Homo sapiens: one gene and its partners. The protein of the gene in region 3 purifies or fractionates together with the protein of the main gene of each other region. This does not show direct contact. Each region holds a gene or a part of one and is shown on either strand. Other genes may lie near its edges.

Region 1 (7,390 bases), on a different chromosome or scaffold from region 3:
CCCATTACACCGGGTTTTACATACACAAGCATTTCCCTAGGGATGAAAAACTAAGTTCTAGAGTGACAGTGGCTTGCTCAAGGTCATATGTCTAATTCAGTAGTTCCAGGGACAATTGGATAATGTCTGGAGACATTTTTGGTTGTCACAACCAGGAGTTGCTACTGGCCTGTGGCCAGGGATATTGCTGAACATCCCACATTTCACAGGACAGCTCCCATAACAAAGAATTATCCAGACCAAGATGTAAATAACACTGAGGTTGTGAAGCCCTGGTCTAAATAATTAGCTAATCAAATTTCTTAACCAAAGCAGACTTACTTGTATCTTATGTATTAAAAAAATGATAAACATCTGGGACATCAAAATATTTTTGTTAAACAAATGTTGATTGTAATGGTGCTGATTCTACCAGAAAAATGTGTATTGATAGTTCACCATTGAAACAATAACTGAGTTGTTTTTCCTGTAAAGATGACCCTCTGCATGTAATCATTTACACATTCTCTCCCTTCCCTCCCCAATGGTAAGCATTTATAGAACAACTGGCTAGGGTGGCAGGTGCAAGGGTGACTCCCTATGACTGAGGAGAACCCCAAAATTTTGCTCTGAGTGGGCTCACCATGATCTCATTGGCATTATCTTTTGCCCTGTCCAATTCAAGTTGCTCAAACAATATACTGTGTCATGGACAGTTCCTGGGCTGTCCTTGAACCTGAAGGATTGCCTCAGCCATCTCAACCTTCTTCTCATAGCATCACCTCAAACCCAGGGCTGAAGTCTAGAAGCCGCATTGTCACTTCCTCATCTGTTAACCATCTCTGTGGGCTGGAGGCAATCCCACCTCAGACTGGGATCATTCAGGAGCAGACGGAATGCCTTCTAAAAGTTGAATCAGTTAGGGTCACTTATATGCAAGGCATTATGCTATATACTGTGAAATGTGCAAAAGAAATGTAACGGGTGGTCCTCATCTTGTGGGAATTGACAGTCTAAGAGAAAAATAATACATACACATGAAGAAATAACCAGTGATTCAAGGCAGAAAATTATACATTCTGAAGACAGTAAATGCTGTAGGAATTTAGAGGTGAGAAAGATGTCTCTGAATTGGGAGGGTCAGAGAAAGTTTTCCTGAAGGGTCACCCTGGCTTGGAAATGGATCTCATGGTGAAGTTAGAAGTTCAGTGGAGATAAAGAGGATTATGAAAGACATGCTTGAAAAATGGGGGGAAACCGGTCTGGCTGGGGTTGAGGCACTCAGTGGGAGAAAAATCAGAGATAAAGTTAGAAAGACAGGTTTGCCCGATTGTGACAGACCCTGATTACCAGGCTAAGGAAATGATACTTTGCTCTGTAGATAAATGGGGAGCTGGGAGGGCTTGTGAGACAAGGCCCCAGTGAACCCCCAAATCAGTTTCCTCTTTCCTCCATCCTGGCTTGTCTAAACGCATTGGTCTGGGAGCCAAGGATTCCAAATTTCTGTCAGTGCTGCCTCCTCCTGACCCACAGCTGTTCCAGGAAAGGTCATGGGAATTCAAGGACCTGAAGAAAGTCCCACATCTGACCTCAACTTGCTGTATGTTTCACTTTCTCAGTCTACAAAAATGAGCCCATTACCTTTATTTATCAAAGGACCAACAAAATTAGGATAACAGAACTTGGATCTGCTTTTGCTTGGAAGGGAACTCTCACGGGCTTTCCATTGGTATCCAGAGGCTGTGTGGAACTCCGGAAGGCAGAGAGGCTTGGCTCTGAAGGGTAGGCACCAATCCAGGCCCGGCCCTCCTCTCTCCCTTCCCCCTTCACTCCCTCCCAGCACAGGCGAGAGGAAGCAGCAGCTGTTGTCCTGTGGGGAAGACAGGCAGAGGTCCACCTGGCACTGTTGGGATTTTCACAACACCCGCCCCAACTTAAACACACACACAACAGCCTAAGGAGAAGCTGGGCCAACAGAAGTGACTTCGACGATAGAATGAGAAGGAAGCAGGGGTAGAGATTGCTGGTGTAAGGGACTTTTTCTTCCCTTCTGTCTTCTCTCCCACTGTTTTGTCTTCTGCTCTTGCTCTCTCTCTCAGAGTCTTTCTTCTCCTCCTGTGAAACTCCTGAACCAGTCCCTGGCCTGATGCCTGAATCTTTTTGTTCTTCCTAAACTTGTCCCCCTTCCTCCATCTTTTTCTGTTGCCCCATGAATGCAGTGAAGCCAAAATAGCAAAATCAGCCTACCAAGTACAAGGTGAAGCAGATCTTGGAAGCTGGATAATTTGGGCACACAAACAAAATCACCTCCCTTATCCAAATAATTGAGGCAAAACAAAGATTTCAGTTGAATTGCACGTATGGTAGGTACGACTCAATTTCGATTTTCATGTGCAAACTTAAAACCTTACTCTCTTTTCCCTTTGGACTGAAGCAGCAGGGCCATGTTTATTTCACTTTCACACAGTCCTAAGGCAGCCTTCTACGCAGCCCAGCATACTCGAGTTGAAGAGCAAACTAGGATAATTATAATATCAGGAAAACACAAGTGTAGAGGGAAATTTAAATCATGGCTTGAAAACATCCCACTCTAGGATAATGAGAAGTAGAAAGGAGACCAAGCTAGGCATTCAAATGAGCTTGCAGCCTTCCATCCAGCCTCCACTCCAAAGGCTAGACTGGCCTGTGCTGATACACATTTGATACACAGCCTGGTTTAAACCGTGGATTTTATCTCCTAACATTCATGTTTCTACGGCAGCAGGGGCATAATTCTCTATCCAGAACTTCTATCCAGAAGTTCAGCCTGCAAAGTTTGGGATACCTTAACAAAGAAGTGAACAGCTGCTCCCCCAACCAAGGCCTCGCTGAGGACAAACCAGAAGAGCCAGAGGCCTGTGTGAACTTGTTCTTGATTCTCTTTTGCCATCTAGTGGCATTTCTCATCTCCAGCACCACTTTTGCTTCTAAAGATCCTTCATCCTGACCCCCAACCCACAGCTGTGCTGTCCAGCTACTAAAATAATGTCCTCCTGGCCTCAAAACAAACTCCCCATCCTCCTGACTTAGAATCATAAATTCTGGACCAGAACACAAACTTTATGATCAGGATGGGTTGTGCGACTTCTCCACAGTTATAATCCACACAACAGCCAGGTAATCCTTTAAGCTGACACGTTCTTTATTCATCTACTTAGAACCCTTCCAGGGTTCCCTACTGTGCTTGGAGTAAAAGCCACAGGCCTTCAAATGGTCCGTAAGTCTTCCCAATGACCTGGTCTCTGGTCCCTCTCTGAACTCTCAGTTACCTGCTCCAGCCACACTGGACACACTGCTGTTCCTCCAACACCTCAGGCATCTGTCTGCTCTGGGGCTTTTGCAGTGCTAGTCTCTTCACTTGGAACATTCTTCCTCCGGATAATCACAAGTTCACTCTTATCTTCAAGTCTCTGCCCCAGAGTCAGCGATTTCAACGATGTTACGTAAAATTACTGACCACCAACCCCTATACTGTTCTACTTTTTTCCCTAGCCATTATCACTTTGAGCAAAGTATACGTATTTTTTTTTACTGTCTTTCTCCAATGGAATGTAAGCTCTACAAAGGCAGGGACTTTTGTCTTTGTTTTTTGTTGTTGTTTGTTTGTTTGTTTGTTTGTTTTTTGAGACAGGGTCTCACTCTGTGACCCAGGCTGGAGTGCAGTGGTGCAATCATGATTTTCACTGCAGATTTTATCTCTCAAGCTCAAGCAATCCTCCCTCCTCAGCCTCTGGAGTAGCTGGGACCACAGGCATGCACCACCATGCCTGGCTAATTTTTCAAATTTTTTATAGAGACAGGGTTTCGCCACATTGCCCAGGCTGGTCTTGAATTCGTGGCCTTAGGCAATCCTCCTGCCATGGCCTCCCAAAGTGCTAGGATTACAGGTGTGGGCCACCGTACCTGGCCATTTTTGCCTTTTTTGTTCAGTGATATATCCCAAGTATCTTGACACTTAGTAGATGCTCGATAAATGTTTGTTGACCACATGAATGAAGCATGCCCAAGATTCTGAGATTGCCTACTACTTACAGGTAAATTCTGAAAACAAAAATATTCCTCATCTCAGTTTTACAGGCCTTCTCACCCACAGAGGGTGATGCTTCTCTGCCTTGGTGTCTCGGTTCTCCTGAGTGTCATATTCCAAGCTCACAAGAGCTTGGAGTAGCACTGACCCAGATGCTCCACACAGCTGTAACCACCACAAGGAACAGGACATACAAGGTGAAGGAAGCACTAAGGCAGGATGTCGAGAGCAGCAACAGCATTTTAAACACAAACATTTGGGCAGTATTAAATTTTTGCAATTTTCAATAAAAAAGGGAGGGAACAAGTGAAATTGAGAGGTGTTGGCTGCCTTCTCCAGCTAAAGCCATGTGGCCTTGGTTGGTACCTGGAACTGGAGAGGCCTGTGAATCATTGTGGAATGGCTTCGCTATTGGGGATGGTGCCAGGCCTCGTGACAGTGATGATTCATTCACCCACTTCCCTCGTGTCTGTTCCATCTCCTCCGAAAGATAACCAGTATCTCCAGATGACAAGGAACCAGACAAAGCATCTTTCTAGGCTGTCCTATCTGTGCCTCAGGTCAGAGAAGAAGCAACCCTTAACACCACAGTGATTGACTCTTCCCAGGATCAAGGGCCAGAAGTGTATATGAGAGGATATGAATGACAACTCTTCCTGAAATTGATTTCAGTTGACACCTGGGTCAGGTGCTCTATTAAAGAGTCATTAAAATCATGTGGCCAGGGAACAAATACAGTCTTCGAATGTGACGATTCAAGCTTCCTCATTGCTGAACATGTTTAGGCAGGTACAGGCATCCTTAGGTGTCCACGTATTTGGGACATGTAAGTGGAGAGGCATGAACCTGATTCATTTCCTGATCCAGTGATGCTCCCAGCCCACCCCCAAACAGACACAGCGTAGCCCGGGCCAGCTCTTAAGGAGTTCAGGAGTGAGAAGAGGCCCTCAGAGATCTGACAGCCTAGGAGTGCGTGGACACCACCTCAGCCCACTGAGCAGGAGTCACAGCACGAAGACCAAGCGCAAAGGTGAGGCTGTGGCAGGATCTGGGGAGGAGTGAGGACAGAGAAGGAGGGATGGGTTCTGATCCTGAGAGTACACTCAGGTGAGCGATAAAATGGATAAAGGAGGGACTGGATTTAGGGGAGATGAGGACACGCATTGGGGAAAGGGGAGAGTGATGTTGGGGATGGAGGCAAAAAATGAAAAAGAATGGGAACACAGACGAGATGGGAATCGGGAGAGGATGAGACACAGACACAGGAACATGGAGACACAAAAGGGATGAGACTTAAGGGAAAGGGGAGAGGACAAAGAGTGACAGGCAACAGGGACAGAATGAAGGGAACAGAAATACAAGATGAGAGATGGGGCCACAGGGTTGTTGTTGGGGCTGCAGTGGATGTGGACACACAGAAGAAGAGGCAGAGATGAGACACAAAGTGAGGAAAGGAGACAACCGAGTAGGGAGATGGGTGACTAGCTCATATGAGCAGGTATAAGAGGACTAATTTCTCAACTGAACACCTCTGTCCCAGCGACCCCTGCCCTCCATCCTGACTGCTCCTCCTAAGAGAGATGGCACCGGCCAGAGCAGGATTCTGCCCCCTTCTGCTGCTTCTGCTGCTGGGGCTGTGGGTGGCAGAGATCCCAGTCAGTGCCAAGCCCAAGGGCATGACCTCATCACAGTGGTTTAAAATTCAGCACATGCAGCCCAGCCCTCAAGCATGCAACTCAGCCATGAAAAACATTAACAAGCACACAAAACGGTGCAAAGACCTCAACACCTTCCTGCACGAGCCTTTCTCCAGTGTGGCCGCCACCTGCCAGACCCCCAAAATAGCCTGCAAGAATGGCGATAAAAACTGCCACCAGAGCCACGGGGCCGTGTCCCTGACCATGTGTAAGCTCACCTCAGGGAAGCATCCGAACTGCAGGTACAAAGAGAAGCGACAGAACAAGTCTTACGTAGTGGCCTGTAAGCCTCCCCAGAAAAAGGACTCTCAGCAATTCCACCTGGTTCCTGTACACTTGGACAGAGTCCTTTAGGTTTCCAGACTGGCTTGCTCTTTGGCTGACCTTCAATTCCCTCTCCAGGACTCCGCACCACTCCCCTACACCCAGAGCATTCTCTTCCCCTCATCTCTTGGGGCTGTTCCTGGTTCAGCCTCTGCTGGGAGGCTGAAGCTGACACTCTGGTGAGCTGAGCTCTAGAGGGATGGCTTTTCATCTTTTTGTTGCTGTTTTCCCAGATGCTTATCCCCAAGAAACAGCAAGCTCAGGTCTGTGGGTTCCCTGGTCTATGCCATTGCACATGTCTCCCCTGCCCCCTGGCATTAGGGCAGCATGACAAGGAGAGGAAATAAATGGAAAGGGGGCATATGGGATTTGTGGACACAGCTGTTTCTGTTCCTGAACTAGAAGTCTTCCCCAGCTCTGACGTGGCAGTGAGGTGACCTGAAGGAAAGAAAAATATAAATAAATACCACTTCATATTTGTATAGAATCCTCTAATCCCTTGTGACATAGACTTGACAGGGATTGTATGCCTTCTTTATGGATGAGGAAATTAAGGTTTTAGAAAGCTTAATGAATTAAAGAGCTTGTCTAATTAGTTAGTAGCAGAACCTGGACTTGAACCTAGGTCTCCTTGCTCTAAATACAGTGTACCTTCTACTCTACCAGTTGCGCAAGAAAGAAGTCACTGTTACAGAGGCAAGCGGTGAACTAGGTAAGAGTTCACTCATGAAGAAACGAGTGCTCTGAAGAGCCAGTTACCCTGTGTTGGCTGCAATAAAGGTCATTACCTCTCTAGCCAAGAGATTGTTTATGAGGTGCTCTGGCATTTTATTCCTTCTCTCTCTTCCTCTCTAACTGCCCCTCCCGTTTCTCTAGACCACTGCTCTTCCAACCTAGGCCCTGGACCTGGCTCTGGCCAGATCCCCTTGGCCTGAAGACATAAGGTAAAGGGAGTGTCTGAGCTTCATCCCCCAGATCCAGGATCACATTTCCTTTGACCTTAAGGGACTTCCGTGGCCCTGAGCCTGCTTGTCACAAACAGGCTGGTGGGAGCTGCCAGAGCTTCCTTCCTCCTGATAATGATCTCCCCTGCCTCATTGCTACCCTGGCTCTCCACTCTGGCAGTCTGCCCAGGCCTGAGGGGTTGAGATGCGAAAATGCCATTTCCCTGTCCCCCTGGGCTACAGATACCATTTCTCTCGTTCTGGGGACTGGAGCTGGAGAAGGTATGGCTTGGTATTGGCCAGTCCTGATGGTCTCTCCAACATTGCTTGACCAGCACCATCCCCTTCTTTCTTCCTTTATCTCAGTCCCAAACAAGCTG
Region 2 (7,457 bases), on a different chromosome or scaffold from region 3:
GATGTTTTTTCATATATTATAATCTGAAACACTTCCCAGTCTAAAGTTTCTCAACAGCAGTTAAACAAGCTCAACTTTGTCAGAAGGCTGGAATGTAGTTCTGCAGAATCAAATGAATTGGACTCATTTAGTAAAACGTAAGTGATTTCATACAGTCATCTCATCTACTTTGGGGCTTCAGTTTCCTCTGAATGGACCAATGGTTATTGATCCTTTCCAGTGTGTACATACTTCTCCTTGATCATAGAGAACGCAGAAGTAAAAAGACTTGAGTAACTTTGCTTTAACTATCTTTTGCCATTGTATCATTAGCCCCGGGGGTGAGGCTGGGCTAGAGATAGACTTGAGCATCATCCCCATAAAATAGAAGGTGGAGTGCAGGATTAGTTATACACATGAAAACTACTGATGCTGATGAAATATATTTGATGATAAGTTTATAATTACCTTTATGATTTAATGTTTAAGATAGTTATATATATATATATATCATTTTTGATAAATTAATTACCTATTTGTTTTACCTTAACAGTTTCAGGTAGCTAAGCTTTTTATAAACCAGGCCTATAGCCTCCTCTGGCATTCATATTTTCTTTTCAAAGCCTACTATTTGACAAAAATTATAACACATTATCTGTGAATAACATATTTTAAAATCATATGCCTGGGTACTATATTAAAATCAGCAAACACTTTCACATTTGATTCTAATAACAATTTTATGAAGTAGGTGTGATATTGTGAAATAGATATTTGGTCTTCTTCCCTGTTTTCTGGCATACAACGCTTAAAATATTTGAAATTTCTAAAGTGATAAATATATTTTCATATGCAAATGAATTGACTGAGGGTTGGCATCCCCTAGGTAGCTTCAGGAGGGGAGCTGGTCACTGGAAAGACCAAGGCAGGATTAGAGGGTTGGGACTTTAAGCCCCACCTTTCTTTAGGGGAGAGAAGTTGAAATTGATAGCCTATGACTAATGATTTAATCAATCATGCCTACATAATGAAGCTTATGTAAACTCCAAAATAACTAGATTCAAAGAGAGCTTCCTGATGGCTGAACATGTGGAGGTTCTTAGAGAATGGAGCATAACGAGAGGACATGGAGGCTCTGTGCCTTGCCCTATGCATCTGTTCCATTTGGTGTTCATTTGAATCGTTTATAATATCCTTTATGATAAACCAGTAAATGTAAGTATGTATTTCCCTGAGTTCTGTGAGCGCTCTGGCAAATTAATTAAATCCAAGGAGGGGGGTCATATGAACTCTGATTGATAGCTGGTTGGTCAGGAGCACAGGTACAATGATCTGGGGCTTGCGACTGGTGTCTGAATGGGGACAGTCTTGTGGGACTGAAAGTCCTCAACCTGTGAGTTTTAATGCTATCTCCAAGTAGATAGTGTCAGGATTGAATTAGAGGACACACAGCTGGTGTCCACTGTAGAACTGATCACTTACTAGTTGGGTAGGGAAATAACCCTCACACATCTGGGGTCACAGAAGTGTTCTGTATTGTGAGAGTATAGAAGCAACTGTGTTTTTCCAACAACCTCAGTAGGTCAAATCAGGACTTTTTCGGATGACCTTCAAGACAACTCAGTCAAAATGTAAATCATTGTTTTTTTAAAAATTACCATTAAAGTGTGCAGCAGACATTTCTGTTCCTTGCTCTATCCCTTACTCCTATTATCAGTATGATGAGTTTAATTTTCTACTTTGTTCATGTATTTACTCATTTGAAATTTTAAAAATGAATTATTTTTGTAATCAAAAGCAATAAAGATCTTCTTAAGTCTGTTAGAACTGAATTAACTTGTAAAGGGTTACCAATTGTGTCCCCCAAATCTGTCATTGTAAATGAGGCTTTTTCAGTGGTAAGCATAAAATATCTCCATTACTGTGTGAAACAAAAGAACTGTTGGAAATTTAATTAAAGATTACCTGAAAAAATCTGGAGTTAAGAATAAGGAATCAACTCTTACTACTCCATTCACTAATGTTAGAAGGGTGGTATAATCATGAAGGATGCAGAATACAGAATGTCAATCCCTTGGATTTTCAAGTGTAAAATAGGGCAAGTGTTATTACTACCATAAAGACATATTTATATTTATTTCTTAATCAAAAATGTGTTAGTATGAACATCATCCTCATAAAGGAGAAAAACCAATTAGAGAAACCGATCATGTGATGCACAAGTGAGTTGTCAGAGAAGTAGAAATTTTGGTGACAATGATTAATAAGCCTTTCCGAAATGAACAATTGTGGTCAACACCTGCTTCATAGTTAGATGTGATTTGCGTGCCAGATAGTGCTTAATCTCATTTCTAATATACTATGCCTAAGCTTCAAGCTCTCTGTCCCTCATACCCAGAGATGGAGAACAGTGATGAATGAGGCTCAGATATTGGGTGAAGGTATCAGCTTTACACACAAATTGTAGCCAAACTGTATCAAGGAAGTTGGCTCAAAACACTATATATCCAAGATATGTGAAGGGCAGGTATGGTCACCAGTTTATGGATAAAGGAAATTTTTTTCTTCATCTCAATCTCTTGCTTTATTTAATAGGTCACTTCTTGGCTGCAGCAGATATTTACAGTATTCTGTGTGCTCACATGAATGTGTGTTTGTGTGTGTGTGTGTGTGTGTTTAATTTATATTTTTATCATGAATCAAAGCTGACTGGATGATCCCACTTAACCCCTATTCTCTGTTCACACATAAAGTTTATTCAAAGTGATACTGCTAATGATATTAGTAAGTTATTGATCTGATATTTTACCAGGCTGTTTAACATGTCACATATTTCTAATAAAATTTTAATTGATTCTTGAGGAATATCATTAAAATGAGCAAGGATCAGATTTGACAGGTCTGCACTCAACACACAAATATAAATGTAAATATGTAATAACTAACTTAAAAGTTTTTAAGGGTAATTTTCAGCTTTTTGCACACTCCTCAGCCATAAAAGAAAATCTAAAGATTCCTTTAAAGTCTCTCATGGCTAGCATTTCTGAAGTGTTTTTTGATGTTGACATCTAGAAGATTTATTAGATGGCAGGATACAGAACAATATGAGAATTTATGTAGCTGTAAAATGGAACAATTTGAGAATTTATCTAGCTGTATAATATACCAGATAAGAGCTTAGACTCTAATATGAATCTCCATATGTTAAAATGCCAGGCCCACCATTTACAGGTTATTTAACTTTGGAAAGTTTTTCAAACTCTCCATGTCTGTGCCTCAGTTTCTCACCTATAAACCTCATAAAGTCACTTCAATGATGAAATAATTATAATCCACATAAAACCCCTTGAACAGTACCTGACACAGAGTGAATAGTAAATCATAACACTTTGTTCACTGGGCAGAAAAAAAATGCTGCTAGCCCCCTGGATAACATTCTCTTCCTCTCTAGAATGGTGGTAGTATACTAGGTCCTATTGCACATATACACATTAGGAAGATACTTTTTACTAAAGTCACTTTGAATGAGAGTATTCTGGATTTAAGTGGTGCTGAAGTATATTGCATAGCAAAATCTGAGGGTAAGTAGGCATTATGATCAAAATTTCAAGTAGTAATAAATGTAAGTTGTAAACACATTTAAATCTCATTATGTCAGTTAAGGCATCTTTCAGGACTTGCAGCTCCCTTAATAACTAGATATTAAAAAGTCAATCAAACTCAGTGTTTCCTAGGGCACATATAAGGGCAGGAGAAATTCCCTTGCATAAATGAAAAACAACAAATGTGAATGCCAAAATGCAAAGCATTTGTGGAATCTTTAGGTTTTTCTTGACCATCCACCTTTCTATACAGCAATTCAATCATTTAGACAAATTTCCTTCAACAAATGATAGAAAAGAATACGAGGCTTTGAGTAAGATAAACAAGTCCATATATTAGACAGAGTCACTAGAAAGAGACCCCTTAGTAATCTTCCTTAACTGCAATTATCAGATGGGTTTTGCAAAGAATGCAAATTTATCTGTGAAAATTGGTGTATTCCTAGACTAATACTCATTATTTTAGTCTGGGAATCTGGAATAATAATACTTATGCTGGTAACTACCTTTGCTAAACTTAAGAACCATAAAAAGACACTTTCATATAACATGTGTGACTTTTTTTCTCTAGCAAGTTTTTTGCATTTTCATGTCTTTGTGAATTTTTAAGCCCATGTGCTTGGAAACTCTGGCTTCATCCCTGACATTCTACATTTCTGCTCTTCACAGACTCCTTTACCTGCTGGGCAGCCTTGTAGCTATCTCCGTGGCAAGGCAGGGCCTCTCCTGGCATGTAAACCTGCTAAGTGAATCCGCCCCTAAGGGCGTGTCAGTACCATTTCCTGGAGCAATGTCACAGGGTGGCTCCATTTTCCATTTGAGCTCAAATATTTTGCTGCTTCCTCTGTAGCTGCCAGACCTGCTCTTGCTGCTGCTCAGGTAGCTTTCTTCTCTTCCCGGCACCACTATTGGCAGAGGTTTTGATAAGCGGTTTCCACACGTGTGTCGTGTGTCTGTCTGCCTGCCTGACTGCCTGCTTGCCTGTCTTTTTTTTCCATTATATTTCTCTGTTTGTTCCTTAGGTAGAACATCTGGGAGGTCCCTTGCTGACCACTGGAAGAAGATGAGCTCGAGCTATTGGAGTGAGACGAGCAGCAGCAGCTGTGGAACCCAGCAGCTCCCAGAGGTGCTGCAGTGCCAGCCCCAGCATTACCACTGCTACCATCAGTCAAGCCAAGCCCAGCAGCCTCCAGAAAAAAATGTAGTGTATGAGCGAGTGAGGACCTACAGTGGGCCCATGAACAAGGTGGTGCAGGCCTTGGACCCCTTCAACTCACGGGAAGTGCTCTCCCCTCTCAAAACCACCTCCTCCTACCAAAATTTGGTTTGGAGCGACCATTCTCAGGTACAACAAAGAAAGCTATGCCAGACTAGTGGAGAAAGGCAATCTTCAACCTGATTTCTCTTCCTTTCTGCTTCTTTGCCTCTATTCCACAGGATATCTTTTGGTGGATTGCAGTTATATATGCCTTGGATAGTCACCCAAATTCATCTCTTGGCTGTTATTTCACTTACTAGTGTCTGTGGTTGTTTGTTTCCGGGTTTCACTGATTTTCATAATCTAACCATAGTATAGGAAGGCTCATTTTCTGTTTGATCTGACTGAAAGATCTGATCCAAGGAATCCCTTTGCCCCTACTGCAAAGCAGTTCTCAACTTGAGTACAGTAGATTTTTATTAGAACAAGTTCCTACTGATTAATTTCATATCAGAAGCAAACAGGTTTTTTTTGGTATCAAATATGGTGATACAGGTACTGTGGCATGTCTGAGTGATAAGCAATTATTTGTGCTCAGCAAATAGTATAGCTGCTCCAGGATAAGTGAGAGGTGCAGATGTCTGAATTGTCATATGTGTTTCATCTTCCAAGAATGACACACTTTTTATCGTACAGCCTAGGTGAATAATTTATGGAATACTTGTAGAAAGAGTACTGGAAGAGTTGATATAGGATTGAGGAAGGCAAGATGTAAGCAATTGTTACATGAAAGCTACAAAAGATGGAACTCTAAGACATCCCATAAAATGAAATACGTTTGTTTCTTAAGAGTTATTCTTAGCACCAATACCTGTGTTAATAACCTTCCCAATAAATACAAGGTAACCCTGCAAGACTGTATAAAATTAACAGCTTTATGTGTATTTTATCCTCTGACTCCTTTTACATTAAATTTGCATGTTTTAAGCTTTCTGGAAAATTCTGTCCAAACTGAAATTATGTTTTTAAGATACAAAAATCTCAAAAAGCAGTCATTGGGATATGATGCTATGTTACATTATTATTACCAATCAGGAGTAATACATATTATTTTTCCAAAACCCACAAATTTGAGTAGAATATAAAGTAACATTTCTCAACTGGTTGAGAAAAACTCCACTTATACTGAGGTCAAGGAGAAGAAAAATATAAAGGTCATAAATACCAGTTTGCATTAGTGATAAAAATAATGCAAATGTGCACTCCAATATTCATATTGAGATGCTAATGCAGAACAAAATGAATGCCACCTTTGTTTTATTGTAGCTCAAAAACAATGATGTGCAGATTAAAAACAATTACTATTATCTTAGGAATCCTAAAATCATCCTATCTGCCATAGCTATTTAAACATATTTAGACCCCTTTTTTGTCAACTTGCTAGTAAAAGAAACATAAATAGATATTTAAAAGCTGAAATTTGACAAATTATAAATATTGGCTACCGGACAATTTTTAGGAGTATGTTTTATTATTTACTCCTTGGTTCAGCTTCCCCTTTCAATAACTCAGGATCAAGTTGGTTGAGCTTTTTACAAGATTTTCCTTATTTTACCTGGCATTTGCCAAAGTGATCCTTAAAAATGGACTATCTCCTTCCTAAAATGTAGCTCGCCACACAGGAGTTTATAAACAACTTAGGGCTAGAAAGTGCAGCTGCAGAAACTGGGATAAAAGATTAGAATGGAGGGCTCTGTGAAGTCTGAAGTTATTTATTATTGAAAAGGAAGAAAAGTAAGTGCTGTTAGAAAATGAGAAAAGTGAAAGTTAAGCTATGTGGTAAAGGGAAAAAAAGAAGTATTAATTCCTTAGTGAAACAAGAAGAAAGAATATTTGACTATAAATTTTCAAACTGAGTTGGATATCAAAGGGCATTCACAAATCCACTAAAAGAGAACTTGGCAAGACAGCTTTTAGATAGCTGTCACAAAGAATATGATGAGGAAACTCTTCTATTTTATTTTCCTTTCTCCCTGTTTATTGATGGAATGGCATTGTGGCATCATGTAAAGTAGGACCTAGATTTGATCTGAAATTACCTTTATGCTAACGAAATGAGTATAATGTGATGGTATGTATAATGTACCATGACAGGCATGAGCAAGCAGTACATATTACTCAAAAACCCTTAATTCACTTTATGTTTCAATAAAGTCTATCCTTAATAAACCACGTTTCAGATGAGTTGATGTGTAGCAATTAGCCTAATACCAGAGTTTGTGACCATGGCAGCAAGAAAAATTGATTTTACAATCAATGGTTGATCATCATGAATTCAGTTAAACTTTTACTTTGTCTTTGTTTTTGTTTTGTTTTGTTTTGTTTTTTGCCTTTTGGTTTTTGGAAGACATTCAGGGAATTAATGAGATTTTAAAATAAATATTACCAGTAGTAAAATATGTTGCCTTTGAGAAACCAAAATTGATGCTACTCTGCTTTGCTTCCTGAATCATAATTTTAGGTCATGTAGTAGGCATTTTCGATTTAATCAAATGTTTTCTGTAGCACTTTATTTTCCATTTCTAGCTTTTGAGTACATGCTTTTATTCTCTTAACCTCTTGTGCACTAAAATGGTGTTTATGGATATAAACATATTTTAAATTTATCTAGATATATA
Region 3 (6,967 bases):
AGCTTCCTTTATCTACCTAATTCATCCTAGATTAGAGTTTTACCAAAGGAGCTACAGAGTACAGTATTTTGTAAGTCTGTAGAGAAATGACGAGGTCAATTTTTAAACGTAAAGAACTGCTTTCTCACACCTGTAATCCCAGCACTTTGGGAGGCCGAGACCGGCAGATCATCTGAGGTCACGAGTTCGAGACCAGCCTGGCCAACATGGCAAAACCCCGTCTCTACTAAAAATACAAAAATTAGTCAGGTGTGGTGGCACATGCCTGTAGTCCCAGCTACTCAAGAGGCGGAGGCAGGAGAATCGCTTGAACCTGGAAGACAGAGGTGGCAGTGAGCTGAGATTGTGCCACTGCACTCCAGCCTGGGCTAGAGCAAGAATCCGTCTCAAAAAAAAAAAAAGGAACTGTTTTCATACTTATGCCTGTATCAAGCATGCACATAGAAGAGAAATCCTCACTTACCTTGCCCATTCCTTCGTCCAATATCATCCTTTTTAAACACTGCACCTCCGCTGGGTACGCATTTTTCACCCCATTCATCCTTCAATTTCAATTCTTCAATCTGATCATCGGTCAGTCCTTGCATATTAGGAGGGAGAAATATGCCATGTTCGGCTAATTCTTCCATTTCTTAAAAATAAGTGAAAGACAGTATCACAATCATAACACCTCATACCCCATTGGAATGTAAGCTCCAAAGAGTCAGGGGTCTTGCCCATCTGGCTCACTATTTTATGGAACAAACATTTATATGCCACTTGCTATGTGCCAGACCTGGCCTGGGCCTTTGACACGGGGGCATGGTACTGGTCTTATTCATCCTTGTCTTTTTTTTCTTTGAGACAGGGTCTCCCTCTGTCACCCAGGCAGGAGTGCAGTGGCGCGATCTCAGCTCACTGCAGCGATCTCAGCTCACTGCAGCATTGCCTCCCGGGTTCAAGCGATTCTCACGCCTCAGCCTCCCGAGTAGCTGGGACAACAGGCATGTGTCACCACGTTTTGTATTTTTAGTAGAGACTGGGTTTCACCATGTTGCCCAGGCTAGTCTAGAACTCCTAGGCTCAAGTGATCCGCCCGCCTCAGCCTCTCAAAGTGTCAGGATTACCCGTGTGAGCCACCACGCCCGGCCCCATCCTTGTCTTCTGAAGGCTGAGCACTGGTGCAGAATAAATACATGAATTTTCAGTTCACTAATGTGACTCTTAGCATTCAGCACATTTCCAATTTATAACGTTATAGGAAAAGAAGATGAATTCCTTTTCTCCTCAAATGCTTTAACTTAAAAATAACATTTAATATTGAGTTTGTGTTGGAACCTCAATTAAGAAACTACACATAAGTTTCATGAAAAGAACCATGACCCTCAGGAATTTCTCCACGGTGCAAAACTCACATATTCATATAATGTAATCAATACATTTCATAATAAATCACATATTCATGCAATTTAATAAATCACATAAATGAATATACTATTTATTGCAAATAGTTACGTTTGTATATTCTATATATACACGATAGTTATATAAACAGTAATATCCTAGACCACATCAGGAAGTATCATCCCGTCAAGTTCAAAAACTATGCTGTCTAATGCGGCAGCTACTCGCTCCACTTGGCGATTTAAATTTATTTAAATTAAAATGACCCAGACGCGATGGATCACACTTGTAATCCTAGCACTTTGGGAGGCGGAGGCAGGCGGATCACCTGAGGTCAGGCGTTCGAGACCAGCCTGGCCAACATGATGAAACCCCGTGTCCACTAAAGATACAAATATTAGCTGGGCGTGGTGGTGGGCGCCTGTAATCTCAGATACTTGGGAGGCTGAGGCAGGAGAATAGCTTGAACCCGGGAGGCGAAGGTTGCAGTGAGCAGAGATCGCGCCACTGCACTCCAGCCTGGGCAACAGTAAGACCCTGTCTCTCACACACACACATACCATATATATATATATATATATAATTTATTTATATTTATATATACATATATATAATTTATTTATATTCATATATACTATATATATGGTATTTATTTATATTTATATATATTTAATTAATTAAAATGCAAATGTAAAATTCGGTTGCCTGGCCGCACTAGCCACATTCCAAATGCTCTACGGCCACAAGTGGCCGGCAGCTGCCCAATGGACAGCACAGATGGGGGCCCTTCCACCGCCGGAAAGTTCTGCGGCAAAGCGGGTGCCCTGGAACCTGCGCGGGGTAGGGAGACGGCGCCGCAACGCAACAGGCCGTTTCCAGGGCGGGGAAAGATCACCAAGGCTTCCTCAACTGTAAGGGGCCGTCCCAAAGCCAGGTGGCTCGCTGCTTTACATTGGGCGACTAAAAATAGTAAATTCAGCTTTTAAAAGCCCACCTAGTTCTCATCTCACCCCTCACACGTGATTAATTGCACTAAGTCTGCTGTTCAGCCCGGCCTTTCGGCTCCCTCCTCCCTCCCCAGCCCATTTCCACTTATTCGCAGCACCCCAAATCCTGGCTCCGAGAGGCACCTGGGCCCACCTCCCAGCCCGGGGTGTCAGACAGGCCGGATCTTCTCCGGTTCCTTATTCATCTCCGGTTAACCCTAGTGTCCCGTTTCAACCCCGGCTGCTGCAAATCTCTTCAATAATCTTCACAAACCTGACCCCTCGGCCCACCCTGCCCCTCTTTCTCCATCCCACGCCGGTCTCTCGATCTGTCCGGGATGGGCCCACCCGCGAGCCGCACCTGAGCAGAGGCGCTGCACCTTGAGCCGCCCATTATAGACCCGGGCCACCTGCACCGTGAGCTCCTCCAGCTCGGTACTCCCAGGCGCCTGCAGCAGGAACTGGCTCTCGTCGCCCCGCTTCACGTGCAGCAGAACCATGGCGGTCCCGCCGAGGTACTGAGGCGTTGAGAAGGCCCCGGCTGCGTGGCCCGCGGGTCCTGCCGGCCGAGGGTCGCCGGATCGCCAGCAGCTGCGACGCACTAACAGCCGCTCACAGTCCGGAATCCCACGCTCCCTAGCCCGCGGTGAGCGGGGGAAACGGCACTCGCTCCCGGAAGTGGATGTTGCCAAGAGCAACAGTGAAGCAGAGTTAAAGAGCCGCCAGCTCAAGCTCAGAACCCGAGTGGGGGAGGCTGGGGTGCACCGAGGCCCAGCAATCCAAGCCCGTACGGAGCTGCGGCCGGGGAAACCACCCACACAGTCTGAGAGGACAGCTGATTCTGAGCGGACCGACGGAAGGAGATTCGCAGAGCCCCTTCCCGGAAGTGACTGTTGTCGCGGCAACTGCCAAAACACAGACCAAGTCGCTGAAGGGGAGGGCGGACCTCCCAATCGACTGGTCTGGGGCCCGAGATTTCCACTCAGGGAGATACGTGGGCTGAGATGGGAGTTACTAGATGGGGAACGGGAAATACGGCGGGAACCACAATCGCGCAGTTCCGCAGCTGCCGCCCCACAACCGCTCCACATTCCAGCGTCCCTTCCGCCGCTTTCAGTCTCCACTTCCGGCAACGTTTCCACGCTGTTTCCGGCCTGGGAAAGTTCGGCGGCAGCGACCCAGAACTGAGTCTTGCTGTTCGCTGCTGTTTGCGCGGGTCAGCTTTTCAGGACGGAGGGGCCAGGGCGAGTGTCCGCACTTCTTCGTTCAGGTTGATTTGGATGGCGTTGCTGGGGTAGCTCCAGCGGCCCCTGCCAGAGCGACCCTCCCAGAAATATCCAGCCATCCTCCAGCGGACTCTTGCTGAAGGCAGTCGGCGTCAGTCGCTGTTTATTCCGGGCCCCACAGATCCAGAGTCACTGCTCTCATGGAGCTTATATTTTAGTGTGACAAAAAGAAAACAAAAATAAATGGACAGGCCAGGAGCGGTGGCTCACGCGTGTAATCCCAACACTTAGGGAGGCCGAGGAGGGCGGATCACCTGAGGTCAGGAGTTCGAAAGCAGCCTGGCCAACATGGTGAAACCCCTTCTCTACTAAAAATACAAAAATTAGCCGAACGTAGTGGCGCGTGCCAGTAATTCCAGCTACTAGGGAGCCTGAGGTGGGAGAATTGCTTGAACCCGGGAGGCGGAGGTTGCAGTGAGCCTAGATCGCGCCACTACCCTCCAGCCTTGGCGACAGAGTGAGACTGTGTCTCAAAAATAATAAATAAACAAACGGACAACACAAATTCAAATACAGATCTAAAGAAAACTAAACAGGTTGATGGACTTCTTATGTTTGATGGTCAGGGAATGTACACCTTCTGCGATATTGGGAGTAATATTATCGTCTCCCGCCCTGAATATTTAGAAAAATATCACAGTGGGGTGTACACCCCTGCGATATTGAGAGTAATGTCATCCTCTCCACCCAGGAAATTACTAACAAGGTCACGGAGGGGTGTACTCCCCCTGTGATATTGGGAGTAATGTTTTCCTCCCCAAACCTGGATGTTAGCAACAAGATAACAGAGGGGGTGTACACACCCTGCGATATTGGAAGTAATATGATCCTCTCCCCCCCGGATACTGGGAAAAATATCACAGCGCGGGTATACATTTCCTTCGCTGTTGGGAGTAATATCATTCTTTTCCTCTCTGGATATCAGGAACAATATCACAGGGGTGGTGTACATTTCCTTCGATATGGGGAGTAATATCATCCTCTCCCCGTTGGGATACTAGGAACAATATCCCAGGGGGGTGTCCACCCTCTGCGATATTGGGAGTAATATCATCCTCTGTTTCCCCGGATATTAGACACAATATCACAAAAAAGTGTACACCCCCTGCGATATTGGGAGTAATATCATACTCTCCTTCCCTGGATATTAGAAAACAATATCATCAGGGGTGAGCACCCCCTGCGATAATGGAAGTAATATTTTCTCTTTTTTTCTTTTCTTTTTTTTTTTTTTTTTTTTTTAACAGAGTTTCACTCTTGCTGCCCAGGCTGGAGTGTAATGGCATGATCTCGGCTCACTGCAGCCTCTGCCTCCCGTATTCAAGCGATTCTCCTGTTTCAGCCTTCCAAGTAGCTGGGATTACAGGCATGCGCTACCATGCCCGGCAATTTTTTTTTTTTTTTTTTTTTTTTGTATTTTTAGTAGAGACAGTGTTTCTCCATATTGGTCAGGCTGGTCTTGAACTCCCGACCTCAGGTGATCCGCCTGATTCAGCCTCCCAAAGTGCTGAGATTACAGGCGTGAGCGATCGCGCCCAGCCACCACTTAGCATTTTCATTTTACATTTGTTGAAGTTACAGATTTATACACACATTGATTGCTGCTTTATTATACACTTGCATATACATAAAATGGGAAATAGAAAAGAATAAAATGGGCACAATATCCCTAAAGTTTCACATTCCGAAACATTTTTTAAATATTTGCTTTTTAGAAATTTGTTTCAATTAAGAAACTGCGGTATACACACACAATGAAGTATTATTCAGCCTAAAAAGGAATAAAATCCTCTCCGCTGCAGAAAAAATGGATGAGATTGCAGGTCTGTATGTTAAGTGAAATAAGCCAGGCACAGAATGACAAATATTACATGTCCTCACTTATACGTAGGAACAAAAAAGAAAATCTTGGCCAGGTGGCTCAGGCCTGTAATCCCAGCACTTTGGGAGGCCGAGTTGCACGGATTACTTGAGGCCAGGAGTTTGAGAGCTGCCTGGCTAACATGGTGAAACCCCGTCTCTACTAAAAACACAAACAATTAGCCAGGCGTGGTGATGCGTGCCTGTAGTCTCAGCTACTCGGAAGGCTGAGGCCCAAGAAGCGCTTGAACTCGGGAGGTGGAGGTTGCAGTGAGCCTGGACTGTGCCTGTATGCTCCAATCTGGGCAATGGAAAGAGACTCCATCACACACCTACAAACAAAAGGAATCTCAGGAAGGTGGAGAGTATAAAGGGGGTTAGCAGACGCTAGGAAGAAAAGGGGTGGATGGGGAATGAGGAGAAGTGGATAATTGGGTCCCAAAATACAGAAAGATGGAGTAAGTGAGTTCTAGTGTTTGATAGTACAGTATGAAAATTTTAGTTCACAAGAATTTCTTGCATATTTCCAGATGCTTTGGTAAGAAGCTTCCTAACTTTCTCATTATGCTGGTTTTTAAGCTCTTGTCTTCTGCTCTTGAAATCATGCTGGTTTTTTGTTTTTTGTTTTGAGATGGAGTTTTGCTCTTCTTGCCCAGACTGGAGTGTAACAGTGCAATCTTGGCTCACCACAACCTCTGCCTCCTGGGTTCAAGTGATTCTCCTGCCTCCACCTCCTGAGTAGCTGGGATTACAGGCATGCGCCAGCATGCCCAGCTAATGTTGTATTTTTAGTAGAGACGGGGGTTTCTCCCTGTCGGTCAGGCTGGTCTTGATCTCCTGACTTCAGGTGATCCGCCCGCCTTGGCCTCCCAAAGTGCTGGGATTACAGGCGTGAGCGACCACGCCCGGCCCATGCTGTATCCTTATCTGTTGTTTGTTGTGGTTTGTTTGTTTTTGAGCCCAGAAATAACTTCTCACCTATGTGTTCAAATGATTTTTAACATGAGTGCTAAGAAAGCTCATTGGTGGAAAAGCAGCCTTTTCAAGAAATGGTGTTGGAGAAACTTGATTTCCACATGCAGAAGAATGAAGGTGGACCCTATGTCACACCAGGTGCAAAAATTAACACAAACTGGATCAAAGACCTAACCCCAAGTGCTAAAAGTATAATATGCCTCAAAGAAAACATTGGCCACACTTTCATGACATCAGATTGGGCAATGCTTTCTGGGATATGACACCAAAAGCATAGGCAACGAAAGAAAATTAGATTCCTTGGATTACATCTAAATGACAGACACTTTTGTGCATCAAAAAACACTGTGAACTGAGTGAAAAGATAACCCATGGATTCGGAAAAATATTTGCAAATCATATATCTGAAAAGAGGCTGATATCCATCATGTATAAAGAACAGCTAGAACTAAGCAACAAGAAACCCAAAGCATCCCA

What was found. The genes of interacting proteins can lie anywhere in the genome.
Region 1: the proteins of CFAP298 (region 3) and RNASE7 purify together in Homo sapiens (affinity purification with mass spectrometry; 3 studies listed by BioGRID and IntAct, with this or other methods). This does not show direct contact.
Region 2: the proteins of CFAP298 (region 3) and POF1B purify together in Homo sapiens (affinity purification with mass spectrometry; 3 studies listed by BioGRID and IntAct, with this or other methods). This does not show direct contact.

Annotation. Positions count from the first base shown.
Region 1 is NC_000014.9:21,037,368-21,044,757, forward strand, and holds RNASE7 (ribonuclease 7 precursor), read left to right. Parts: upstream 1-4,994; 5' UTR 4,995-5,075; intron 5,076-5,585; 5' UTR 5,586-5,625; coding exon 5,626-6,096; 3' UTR 6,097-6,866; downstream 6,867-7,390. UniProt on the Homo sapiens protein: Exhibits a potent RNase activity.
Region 2 is NC_000023.11:85,376,642-85,384,098, reverse strand, and holds the start of POF1B (protein POF1B), read left to right. Parts: upstream 1-4,433; 5' UTR 4,434-4,460; intron 4,461-4,603; 5' UTR 4,604-4,644; coding exon 4,645-4,926; intron 4,927-7,457. UniProt on the Homo sapiens protein: Plays a key role in the organization of epithelial monolayers by regulating the actin cytoskeleton. May be involved in ovary development.
Region 3 is NC_000021.9:32,609,375-32,616,341, forward strand, and holds the start of CFAP298 (cilia- and flagella-associated protein 298), read right to left. Parts: upstream 3,004-6,967; 5' UTR 2,870-3,003; coding exon 2,731-2,869; intron 632-2,730; coding exon 464-631; intron 1-463. Other genes in the region: CFAP298-TCP10L (uncharacterized protein LOC110091775), read right to left, coding at 464-631, 2,731-2,869. UniProt on the Homo sapiens protein: Plays a role in motile cilium function, possibly by acting on outer dynein arm assembly. Seems to be important for initiation rather than maintenance of cilium motility.